3 separate regions of the Homo sapiens genome follow, and all the other regions are linked to region 1. The links come from fine-mapping of genetic effects on gene expression. A gene starts in region 1. Each other region holds a variant in brackets. All regions are shown on one strand. Distances are from middle to middle.

Region 1 (4,222 bases):
AAATGGAGGTGATAGGCCAGATTTCTGAGGGGCCCTCCTGCTCTAACAACCCATGGTTTCATGAAGACCAGCTTTGTGCCCAGACATGTAAGGCATATACCGAAGGACAAGTTATTTTTTAACCAATGGTTGGTGAATGAGTGAGTGTTGAATTAATGAATGAAGTATGCCTTTTTTGTCCCAATATCTTGCCCATAAGCCAAATGAAGAGTAATTCGAGGTTTGAAATTGTGCAAACTGGCCAGGCACAGTGGCTCACGCCTGTAATCCCAGCACTTTGGGAGGTAGAGGCAGGTGGATCACTTGAGGCCAGGTGTTCCAGATCAGCCTGGCCAATATGGTGAAACCCCACCTCTACTAAAAATACAAAAATTAGCCGCATGGTGGCACATGCCTGTAGTCCCAGCCACTCAGGAGGCTGAGGCAGGAGAATTGCTTGAACCTGGGAGGCAGAGGTTACAGTGAGCCAAGATTGCATCACTGTACTCCAGCCTGGGCGACAGAGCAAGACTCTGTCTCCCTCTCTAAAAATAAATAAATAAATAAATAAAATTGCACAAACTTAGGCTTAAAATCCCAGCCCCTCTATTTCCCAGATGTGGATCTTGGGGAAGTCACTTTGCCTCAGTTTCTTCATCTTGAAAATGGACCATTAATGTCCAGTTACAGCCTCTTCCCCAGGACGCTGTGAGGGAGAGATGTGACAGTAAAGTGCCTAGAGCAGGATGTAGAAAGTGGACCCTCAGAAAATAAGAACCCCAGCCTTTCTGCTCACATGGGAGGGCAGGGAGCTGAAATACCTTCTGCTTATCCCAAGGCATTTTCCCCCACCCTTCTCTCCTGTGCCACTCAGAAAGGGTAGGAGCTACTTTGGAGAGATTTTGATTTTATTTATTGTATTGTATAACTATCAAAATCTGCCCTAACAACTGATACCTAGGCTTTGTGACAGGAAGCCACAATAACTTTTTCTTGACCTGCAGCTGCCCTGCGGATAAAAGATAAAACAAAGCTGGGGAGCCACTGAGATTATCAGGCCTGCTGCACAGGAAAAGGGCAGTATGCAGCAGGGGACCTGGGCTCCAGGCCCCATACTCAGAAACCTCTGAGGGAGGCAGAGGCAGGTGGATCACTTGAGCCCAGGAATTCGAGACCAGCCTGGGCAACATGGCCAAATCCCATCTCTACAAAAAATACAAAAATTAGCTGGGTGTGGTGGCGAACGCCTCTATTCCTAGCTACTGGGGAGGCTGAGGTGGGAGGGATGACCTGAGCCCAGGGAGGCGGAGGTTGCAGTAAGCAGAGATGGTGCCACTGCACTCCAGCCTAGGTGACAGAGTGAGACTCCATCTCAAAAGAGAAAGAAAGAAAGAAAGAGAGAGAGAGAAAGAAAGAAAGAGAGAGAGAGAAAGAAAGAAAGAAACCTCTGGCAAGCTGTGTGGTTAAGCCAAGTAACTCACCCTCTCTGGTCCTCAGTTTCCCTGTTTGCCTACTTCCCATGTGTGAGGTTCAAATCAGATTGTGCAAGCCTGTGAACACTGTAGAAACAATAATCATTATGTAAGTGATCATTTCGTCAGCCTTTGCTCTATGCCAGGCACGGGACGAGCGTTCTTACAAGAGCTGCAAAATTAGTTTTAGCAGTATTGTTCCTGTTTTACATATGAGAAAACCTAGGCTCAGCGAGGTCAGATTCCAACCAACCCAAATCACGCATCTTCTCCTGGCCCTTCGTTTTCTCTCGGGAGACATGGCCTCCCTACTATTGCATAATTACTTTGTGAAGTTAAAGAGCGTTGGGTGGAAATGAGTGGGACAGATTGGAGATGACGTGGGTGGGGTGGGAGGATTCAAGGAGGGTACGCGCCTGGCCGGACTGGGATGACTCTGCGGCAGGCCTGGGACTCCCTCAGGCCGACCCAGGCTTCCCAAGTCCCTCCTGGAGCCAAGGGCCCGGGATTCTCGGGCGGCTCGGGCGAGCGGGCGGGGCAGGAGGCGGGGCGGCGGCAGGAAGCTGCCCGAGCGGCGCTCTGAGCGGCCTGAGCCCGGCGGAGCCCTGCAGAACCCGGCCGACCTCCATGGGCTGCGGGGGGCTGCACCCGGACCCCTGGGGCGCGGCGCGCCCCTGAATGCACCGTGGGACGCAGGAGGTAGAGGCGCACGAGGCGGCGCAAGAGACATCGGGAGGGTCCTGAGCCCCTCCGGGGAGGAACGCGGTCCTAGGCTGAGTGGGTTGGGGGGAAAGCGATGCTGGCTGGGTCCCCTGGTTCGCAAGACCTCGGACTGCCAGGGGGTGGGGCCTCACCGCGCCCCTCCCTCTCCGGTTCGGGCCCCGCCCCTCCTCCTCCTGCGCCGGGCTGGGGTACCCCTCCTCCGGGATCCGGTACACAGCGTCGCGCGCTCCCCCCAGGGTGCCATGGCCTCCCGGCTCCTGCACCGGCTGCGGCACGCCTTGGCCGGCGACGGCCCCGGGGAGGCGGCGGCCAGTCCAGAGGCCGAGCAGTTTCCGGAGAGCTCAGAGCTGGAGGACGACGACGCCGAGGGCCTGTCCTCCCGACTCAGCGGCACCCTCAGCTTCACCAGCGCCGAGGACGACGAGGACGACGAGGACGAGGACGACGAGGAGGCTGGCCCTGACCAGCTGCCCCTCGGGGATGGGACGTCAGGAGAAGACGCAGGCGAGTGCAGGAGGACGGAGGCGGGAACCCTGGGGCTCGATTAGGCCTCCATCCCAGCCGCGTTCCCAGAGCATCCAGGGCGCTAAGTTGATCCAGCTGAAACTCCCACACTTCTTAAAGCGCCTGGGCCACCTCTTGGCTGTGTGACCTTGAGAGAGTCTTAACCCCCCTCTGAGCCAAGTTTTCCCTTGTGTCAAGTGGGAGAACTCACTCTCATCTCAGAATTGCTGCAGGCATTAAATGTACAGGGCTTGGGATCCGAATGGAAATGATGTATTAACGATATTTTGAGGGTGGAGCTATTAATTTAGCCCCTACTGTCTGCCAGGCACGGTGTTTGGCTCCTCGGTGCCTCTCTGTCCCTCAGTTTCCATTTCTGTAAAAAGGGGGTAAGTCCTGCCTCACACTGGGAGGATGAGTGAGGCCACGTCAGTGGTTGATGTCGACCCTGGCCCTAGGCCCATTGATATGACTGGTCATGTGTCTGCAGAACGGAGCCCCCCACCTGATGGGCAGTGGGGCAGTCAGCTCCTGGCGCGGCAGCTGCAGGATTTCTGGAAGAAGTCCCGGAACACCTTGGCACCCCAGCGGCTGCTCTTCGAAGTGACCAGCGCTAACGTTGTCAAGGACCCGCCCTCCAAGTACGTGGTGAGTGAGGGTCTAGAACCCCTGGGCTGTGAGTCCAGAAGTATGGCTAGGAGCAAGTAGGGAAGACCCCAACTTCCTGAGGGGTCTATGTAGTTATAAATGGTTACCTTGTTTACAAATGGGGAAACTGAGGTCAGAAAGGGGATGTAACTTGAGCAAATCCTCACACAAGACTTAGTTTCCTTGAGACTGACTGAAGTGGGGATTAAGGACCTTCCTCTTAACCTGGTTTTGAGACTAAGAGAACTGGTGTGTGCACTTCCCCACCCAGCCCACAAGGTTTTTGCAAATTGTAGCAAGATGTGAGATACAGAGAGACAGATGTTATCTGGGTCAAACTTGAGATCCAAGTTGCATGGGCTGGTAGTTAAGGAAATAGGCTTTCGATCCAGACCAATCTTGACTCCCACTTATTTCCAGTTGTTTGACTCTGGGTGAGTTGTTTAACCTTGGTCATCTTCCGTTTCCTCATTATAGCAATGGGGAAAATGCAGAAGATTACAGCAGGAGTTAAATGAGACAATGGACAAAAAGCCCTTAGCAGTGTGCCTGGCATTATGACGTGGTCAATGAAATGGTAGCTATGTCATCATTATTTAACTTTGGGTTGAAAATGTTTGTCATCTAGGGCCTGCTGTGTCCTTATAACGCACAGGTCAATCAGTTCTCAAGCACCCGACCTTGTCCCTAAGGGCTAGACTTAGAGGGTTGGTGGAGGTTAGGATGAAGAGCAATGTTGGGGAGGACCTTGGAGTCCCTTGCTGTTTTCCTTGCTGTTGAGAGACTGACTTGGAGAATGAGGTCTGCTCCTTTAATGCCCACAGCGACTCCTGCTCCAGTCCCTTTTCAGGCCAGGCCTGAAAGCCAGCTGAGCTGGCCACTCCTGTCAGTGGCAG
Region 2 (4,222 bases), 30 kb before region 1:
TAAGACCCTGTCTCTCAAAAAAGGCTCTTCACTCCGCAAGGTACTGGGCTTCCTCAAAGCCCTTTTGAGCCTTCCTAGACATGAGAGGCAGTTTTTCTCCCTGTCCCTGTCAAACATCATTTGATCTCTTTGGAAAACCATCTCTGCCAAGTGACCCTGGACCTGCCAATGGGGTATGGGGAGTAACCACAGGGTCAGACCTCTGACAGCTGTTTTTTGTGGCAGAGGAAAGGACGGCCTCCTGGACACATCCTGTCAAGCGACCGGGCAGCCGCCGGCATGGTGTGAGTAGGGACCAACAGTGTGGTGAGAGCATAGGGGAGCAGACGGAGAGAGGGGCCCTGAAGGAAAAGAGTCCAGGGTTCTGTGCCTGTCAAAATCAGATCCATCAGCTTAAGTCATCGTGGAGGGGGGTTATCCTGGTTGGAGGGGTGAGGAAGGAGGGTAGTGAGGAGGAAATTGTTTTACCCCCTGAACGGTTTGGCCCAGCTTGATGAAAGATTAAACTCCAGAGGTTTGTCATTGTTAGTATATATTGGATGCTTATGACTGGTCTAAATACGTTACATACTTTACCTTTTAATCTTTATAGCCACCCTGTAAAGAAGATATCATTAATTTTTCAGATAACAGACTCAGAGAATTACTTGCCTAATGTCATATCGTTAACATTGCCTCCAAGACGGTCATTTTCAAATATATATTTTTTTAAGACTTAATTTTTTTAGAGCAGTTTTAGGTTCACAGCAAAATTGAGAGGAAGGTACAGACATATCCCGTATACTCCCTGACCCTACACATGCACAGCCTCCCCCATTATCGACATCAGGCACCAGAGTGGTACATTTGTTACATTTGATGAGCCTACTTTGACTCGTCTTGATCCTCAGAGTGCATAGTTTCCATGAGGGTTCACTCTTGGTATTGTACATGAACTTAGACAAATGCATAGTGACAGGCATCCACCATTCTAGTATCACACTGAGTGCTTTCAGTGCCCTAAAAATCCTCTGTGTTCTGCCTGTTCATCCTTCCTTCCCCCTCAACCAACCCCCAACCCCACTTTTTAAAAAAAATTCTGAAGCAGCAGAATCTTTTTCAAACAAAACTTTACATGGGAGCCCAGTATTTAAATCAAATAAAGCCACACTGGTCTGGTTCAGGGGCGTGGGGTTAGTTTGGAACAGCTGGCTTAGTAGATGGGCTAGTATTAACTGTCATACCTTAGATGTGTCTCCTACACGAAGCAGTTTTATTCCTCACAAACACAAGATAGGTAGGGCAGTTGCTGTTTTTGTCTCTTTTGACAGATGAGAAAACTGCCACTCAGAGGTTCTTGGAGTTGCTCATGCCACTATGTAAGAGCAGAGCTAGTGCTAGAATGGCTTCTAGTCCAGTGCTTTTTTTCCCTTTGTTCCTCCTCTTATGTGTCACCACGAAGGAGGATGTCCAGGGCTAAAGTGAGAGTGTGTGAGGAACTCCTACCACCACCAGCAAGCTGGCATTTAGTCCTAGGTCTCACCTTGGAGAATTCACCTTTATTCTTTCCTTCCAAGCAGATGGAAACCAAAATCCTGTGAACCAATTCGCCGGGAAGGCCCCAAGGTATGATTATGTGAGCATGGCAGAGATCACGATCCCAGGAGATAGTCCCACTATCTCTAGGACCCACCATGAGGGAAAGGGGCAGGGGGCGAAGGGTGCATGCACACCATTCCAGAGCCATCTGCCCCTCTCCACCTCCAGCCACACTGGCCTCAGAGAGGATCCTGTGTAGGAATTGGAGTTAGAGGCAAAACAAAGAGAGGGCTTGAGTCTTTGCTGAAGCCTTCTCCTTATAGGAGTTAGTGGTCACTAATACTGATTCAATACTTAGTATGTAACGGGCAGTGTCCTAAATCTTTTGTGTAGACCATCTCATTTAATCTTTATAACAAACTTATGAGATCAATTCTGTGAACCATTCTATAAATGAGGCGTTTCCTTTTCTGCCAGCTTCCCTGTGGGCATAAATTATTTTATTCAGTTGTCTTATACACTTAATGCACTTAAGACTTGCCCAAAGTCACATAACTCGTAAGTGATCGAGCTGAGTCTCAAACCCAAGACCCGCTGACACCAGAGTCTGTGCTCTCAACCATTAGCCTCTGTTGCCTCCCTCTCTCTCCTGAGTTCTTCCTCAGCAGTGACTTATATAAATGGTTGTTCCCCAGAATTCTCTCCTTGGCCCACTTCTCCATCTAAAGTAACTCTCTGGATAATCTAAAACATATACTCTTATGGTTTCAGGGACCACCATGTTCTAAAACTCCCATACCTCTTTGTCCATCCCATGCCTCTTTCTACTTTAAAACTTGTTTATCCTACTATCTGCTTGACCACTCTGCTGGAAGTTTCATAGGCATTTCAGACTCAGCATATCCAAACATGAAATTAGAATCTTTCCTCACAGCCCTTCTTTACATTCGTTATCTTAATCATCTTTGCCTCCTCCTCCTCTTCCTTACCTCCCTACACCCAGTCGAGTCCTGGACAATTCTTCCTCTTAAATATATTGCAGTTCCTATTTCCTTCT[G/C]TTCATCCTTACTGCTGCCCTAGCTCAGGCCCTTAGCAGCTTTCCAACTGCTTTATCACAGCGGCCTCTAAACTGCTCTCCCTGCCTGTAGTCTTGCCCCTTCAAATCCATTATCCACATTGCTAGAAGACTAAGCTATCTTTAAAGGAAATCTGACTCTCACTCCCTGTTTAGAGGCCTTCAGCGATTCCCCATTGCCTACAGAAGAAATAAAATGCAGTCCCCTGAACATAACCTCCTAAGACCTCCAACTCCTCTGTGTTTCTCTCTCCAGCCCCATCAGCTGCCACTCCCTAATTTGTACTCTCTCTGTTAGCAGCACAGAATTACTAGTAGTTTCTCCAGCAGGCCAAGCTGCCTCTCACCTGTCTTTGCTCATGCTGCCCCCTGTCTGGAATGCCCTTGTTCCTGACCCCCTTTACCCCAACTTGTGCTCACCCTTTCAGAATTAACTTGGGAAATGCCTCTCTAAGGAAGCCTTCCTGGCTGGACCCTCCCCTCGGCAGCCCTCAGACCCTGCACTCACTTGTGTCCTTGCCTCATCGCACAATGGTGTAATTATCTGTACATATGTTGGTGGCATCCTAGAAAACAGAGACTGTATCTTATTCATCTCTTTATCCCCAGTATCTAGCACAGACAGGGCCTAGCATATTGTGAGTACTCAGTGTCTTGGGTCAACTGTTGATTAAATAATAGACAAGGGGAAGGGTTAGAAAAGGGTAGGGGGAGGAGTGTTTCTGTCCTACCCATCAGATTAAACTTCACCCTCACGAGCTTCTCTATTTTTTGCACAGTGGGACCCAGCTCGCCTGAATGAATCTACCACCTTTGTGTTGGGATCTCGAGCCAACAAGTAAGTTTAAGAGCTTTGGCACTGATTGAGGAAACAGCTCAGGAGTTCACTAGTAGGACTACACTTTCTGGAATCTTGACCACTTGGCTTTTACTTTTCAGAGCCCTGGGGATGGGGGGCACCAGAGGAAGAATCTACATCAAGCACCCACACCTCTTTAAGGTAGGTGACTGCTGGGAGGAAAGCAGGCCATTGCATTGGGAGTAGACTGGGAACTCCACTCAGCACAGAGAAGCTTAGAACAAACACTGATCTTGGAGTCAGGACATCTGGGTTCTAGTTGTGCCTCTGCCATTCACCTTTCCCTTTCATGATTTACTCAACACCTCTGTGCCTCAGTAATAACAGCTACTTTGCTTGCATGCTTACTGGGTGCCAAACACAGTTTTAAATCCCACACTTATATTATCTTAAAAAATAAGTATTGCCATCCTTATTTCACAAATTTGAAACAATCAGAGGTTGAGAAAGGCTGAGTGACTTGCCCACAGTTATTCAGCTAGAAATGGTGAGTCAGGATTCAAATCCAGGTCTGTCCTCACCAAAGCCTGAGCTCTTAACCACTACCATATTTGGTTGTCTGTAAATTAGAGTTTGGGCCAGGTGCGTGAGCTCACACCTGTAATCCCAGCACTTTGGGAGGCCAAGGCGGGTGGATCACCTGAAGTTGGGAGTTCGAGACCAGCCTGACCAACATGGAGAAACCCTGTCTCTACTAAAAATACAAAATTAGCTGGCATGGTGGCTCATGCCTATAATTCCAGCTACTCAGGAGGCTGAGGCAGGAGAAT
Region 3 (4,222 bases), 150 kb after region 1:
TTTTTATACAACAGTGACCATTAGAGAAGGGGGGAAGGGATTTTGGGTGTGTATTTGTAGGTACTAAGGGATTTACTAAATATAGTAGAGCACTGTCACACTTGTTCAAGTAGTTTCAAACGTAGAAAATTAAGTATCAGAGGCAGGTATAGGGAGCAATGTAGTCTTTTTTTTTTCTTCAATTTTAAAAATTTTAAATTGTGGTAGAAGCAATGTATCCTTAAGGTGAAAAACCTACCTCAGTTACATGTGGTTTGTGTTTTCTGGATTAATCTGGATTTTATAATTAGAAATAAAAATGTAAGATTTTGAATCCACTTAATAATTTCTTGAAAATAATACAAGTCAGTGTAATAGAGAAGCATTCATATATTCAACACTGTAAGACAAAACAGCAGAGACCTTGGATTTGATAATTGATCTGATATCCTGGACAGTATTCATATGTACAGTGATAGGTATGTTTCTTTGGGGTTTTTTTGTGTGCATATGTGTGTAGTTTTATCGTTCTGAGTTGGTGACCAGTAAGTTCCATGTAGTGCTGGCACTTATTTAATAACTATTCATGATTTTGTTAATAACTTGTTACAGGATTCAGGCATATATTTTCAGCATAAGAAGCCAGACACACCAGCTTGTCATTGGAGATAATATATTAAGTGAGAAAAACATTCAGGAATCAGAACTTTAACATGTTAAAGTTAGTGCTAAACATGGTCATATTGGGTCTGAACCTATCCTAATATGTAACCATAAAGCTTGACTTTTGCATTGGAACTATGCTTTCATAAATAAAGGATATCCCATGGGATTGTAATTGTAATCCCATATTATCTGTAATTGTAATTCCCATATTATCTGAGAAGTAGTGTGACACCTTTCTTTTGTTGTTACATTAAGCTGAAAACATAATACTAATAGACGACTAACAGTTTGCTTATCAGGCACATCAACTAAGGCACCTCCCCCCATGCTAAGTTTCTCCTGGATATATGGAAGTTGGTTGTTTCCCAGTTTAAAAACTTGAACTAATATTACCTAAGAAAACCTGAGCCCATATTGTTTTTATTTTACTTAGCTAGAATCTCATAGCATGTTAAAGTCATACCTTATCCCCACTAAAAATAACTATGTCTATGTGAGAGGAATATTATGTGTGGGAGCTGTATTAAATACTATTATAGGTGTTACAGAATCTTTAAATAAATGGACGTGGACCAACCTTCCATCTAGTAGTGTACGATCTATATAGTGCATGTCAGTAGCACAAAATGCAGTCTTAGTTAGCATTAGCCTGTCTAATCTGAATAGTTTACTCAAAAGTACTTCTTTGTGTTAATTATTCAGCCATTGTTTTTAGATCTAGTTAATAGGTTCTATTTAATTTGCTGCAACATTTATTGAATGGGTGAGTGAAAGAACTGATGCATATTGGGAAATATCTTACCATTTTTTAAAGATAATGTTACATTAGGAAAAGAACACTTTTAAGGAATTTATAGCAGTGATGAAATGAATTCAGTCTATATCAGATACACCAAACTGTTGATGGTATTTAAATGTGACTGCAAGTTAGTATTTCTGTATATATTATTGATTACTGGTTTGTTTTTAGATATGTAAGTCTGTCCTAATCTACGGTTCACGTATTGACAGTTGCTCTGGTAATAATAGAATGTTAGTGATGATCACTTGGTGGATGTTGATTAAGTGCCTGTGTTTTGTTTTGTTTCCTCCTCTGGATACCAAATAGGTGTATGCTACTTTTTTGGTGAACTTATTTCTTGGAAGATTTGGTTATGCTATTCAGGGTTTTTATTCTTATGTTTTTCTTCTAAACTTAAGCAGCATCCTGCTGCTACCATATTAAAGCTCAAATTTAACTTTTGTGGAAAAATCAGCTAATTCAGGTAATCCAAATATTTGTGGAAAAACATCTGGGTAATTTATTGACCACATTAGTATTGTGTAGACAGCTTTGATTATTCCCATTGCATAGGTTTTTATTGTAGAATAGTCAACTTAATATAGATTCACTTTTAATTTACATGTATAAAGTAATACTCAATAAAAATTTTTTCATTTATTTAAAAAAAAGAAAACTAAGCAATCTGGCTCTAGACTCCATACTTTTAGATTGCTGTACCATTTCTCATCATAATGCTTGACTCTTAGGTGATATTTTGTCTTCTCCTGAGTCAGGCCTGGTGGTTACTATTTTCCCATTTTACAGATGAGGAAATTGAAGCCCAGAGAGGGGATTTGACTTGCTCAAGATCACAGAAATTTTCTGGTGTAATGGAAGGGGCTGTGAGCCCAGGCCAGATCTCCTGCAGTAGATAATAATCACACTAGCAGTTTTTAATTAATTTATTTATTTTTTTGAGACAGAGCATCGCTCTGTCGCCCAGGTTGGAGTGCAGTGGCGTAAACTCGGCTCACTGCAACCTCCGCCTCCCGGGTTTAAGTGATTCTCCTGCCTCAGCCTCCCAAGTAGCTGGGATTACAGGCACGCGCCACCACGCCCAGCTAATTTTTTTGAATTTTTAGTAGAGACG[G/A]GGTTTCACCATGTTGGTCAGGCTGGTCTCGAACTCCTGACCTCGTGATCCGCCCACCTCGGCCTCCCAAAGTGCTAGGATTACAGGAGCGAGCCACTGCGCCCGGCCACTAGCAGATTGTTTGTTTGTTTGTTTGTTTGTTTTTGGCTTTTTTGTTTTTTCTTTGAGACAGGGTCTCACTCTGTTACCCAGGCTGGAATGCAGTGGTGCAAACATGGGTCGCTGCAACCACTGCCTACCAGGCTTAAACAGTCCTCCCACCACAGCCTCCCAGGCAGCTGGGACTACAGGTACGCGCCATTACACCCAGCTAAATTGTTTTGTATTTTTTGTAGAGATGGGTTTTCCCCATATTACCCCGGCTGGGTGAATGTTTACTGGGTACTTACCAAGTATCAGGGGATGCATTCAGTGTTTTGTATGCATTTTTATTTTTATTTTGAGACAGGATCTGGCTCTGTTGCCCAGGCTGGGGTGCAGTGGCAGACCCTGGCTCACTGCAACCAGTCCTCCCAAGCTCAAGTGATCCTCCTACTTCAGCCTCCTGAGCAGCTGGGACTACAGGTGCACACCACCACACCTGGCAAAGTTTTGTATATTTTTTTGGTAGAGGTGGGGTTTCACCATGTTGCCCAGGCTGGTCTTTTTCTTTTTTAAGATGGAGTCTCGTTCTGTCGCCCAGGCTGGAGTGCAGTGGTGCAGTCTCGGCTCACTGCAGCCTCCGCCTCTCAGGCTCAGGCGATTCTCCTGCCTCAGCCTTCGAGTAGCTGGGATTACAGGCACGCACCACCATGCCCGGCTAATTTGTATTTTTAGTAGAGACGGGATTTTGCGGTGTTGGCCATGCTAGTCTCCTGACCTCAGGTGATCCACCCACCTCAGCCTCCCAAAGTGCTGGGATTACAGATGTGAGCTACCTTGCCCGGCCCTATGTGCATTTTTAAACTACAGTCACAACAGCCAGAGATATTAGATGCTCTCTGCATTCCCATGTTACGGATGAGGAACCTGAGGCCCCAGAGCAGTGACTGTCTGAGGTCATGTGCTTGATCGTCAGCAGAGGTAGGATTCAAACCCTGGCTTACTGACTCCCAGTCCAGTGCTCCTCATGTTGCACCAGATGCCCCGGAAGGGCAGCGGGGTTGAGAGTAGGCAGCCAGCAGGTGGGTCCGAGGGTTCATCTCTACCTGCTTTCTTCATGTCACTGCTGTCTATGGGTTTAGCTAACCCTGTTTTTAAAAACCTATTTATAGCTTAAGACTGTACCACCACTTGGGATAATGAGTCCCTTAAGTTGACTTCCCACGGTGTAAATTAAGATTTCCTTCTATTTGTCCTAAATCTTTCTCTTTCAGTATTGGAGGGGGATGGGGTAGTGGGGAAATGCCCTAGGGCCACAACACTTGGATTTAGAAAATAGGCTGAATGGGCTGGGTGCGGTGGCTCATGCCTGTAACCCCAGCACTTTGGGAGGCCAAGGTGGGTGGATCACCTGAGGTCAGAGTTTAAGACCAGCCTGGCCAACCTGGCGAAACCTCGTCTCTACTAAAAATACAAAAATTAGCTGGGCATAATGGCGGACGCCTGTAATCCCAGCTACTCGGGAGGCTGAGGCAGGAGAATTGCTTGAACTGGGGAGACAGAGGTTGCAGTGAGCCAAGATT

What was found. PIP is the estimated chance that this variant, and not a neighbour inherited with it, causes the effect.
Region 2: its variant is the best candidate, but not a certain one, in a credible set for the expression of SNX21 in whole blood (INTERVAL, PIP 0.75).
Region 3: its variant is the best candidate, but not a certain one, in a credible set for the expression of SNX21 in whole blood (INTERVAL, PIP 0.86).

Annotation. Positions count from the first base shown.
Region 1 is chr20:45,831,791-45,836,012 of GRCh38, forward strand. SNX21 (sorting nexin family member 21) reads left to right here and starts at 2,009. Exons shown (of 4, transcript NM_033421.4): 1 at 2,009-2,150; 2 at 2,411-2,678; 3 at 3,169-3,326. The coding sequence starts at 2,130. It also overlaps a transcript of TNNC2 not described here. RefSeq lists silencers at 2,053-2,362, 2,383-2,502, 2,543-2,592.
Region 2 is chr20:45,801,774-45,805,995 of GRCh38, forward strand. It overlaps DNTTIP1 (deoxynucleotidyltransferase terminal interacting protein 1), which reads left to right. Exons shown (of 13, transcript NM_052951.3): 7 at 226-284; 8 at 1,560-1,605; 9 at 3,373-3,431; 10 at 3,533-3,593. Among named protein-coding and RNA genes, the nearest start is that of UBE2C, 8.8 kb to the right of the region's middle. The variant G/C (reference allele first, on the strand shown) is at 2,576.
Region 3 is chr20:45,977,810-45,982,031 of GRCh38, forward strand. No RefSeq gene overlaps it. Among named protein-coding and RNA genes, the nearest start is that of ZNF335, 7.7 kb to the left of the region's middle. The variant G/A (reference allele first, on the strand shown) is at 2,559.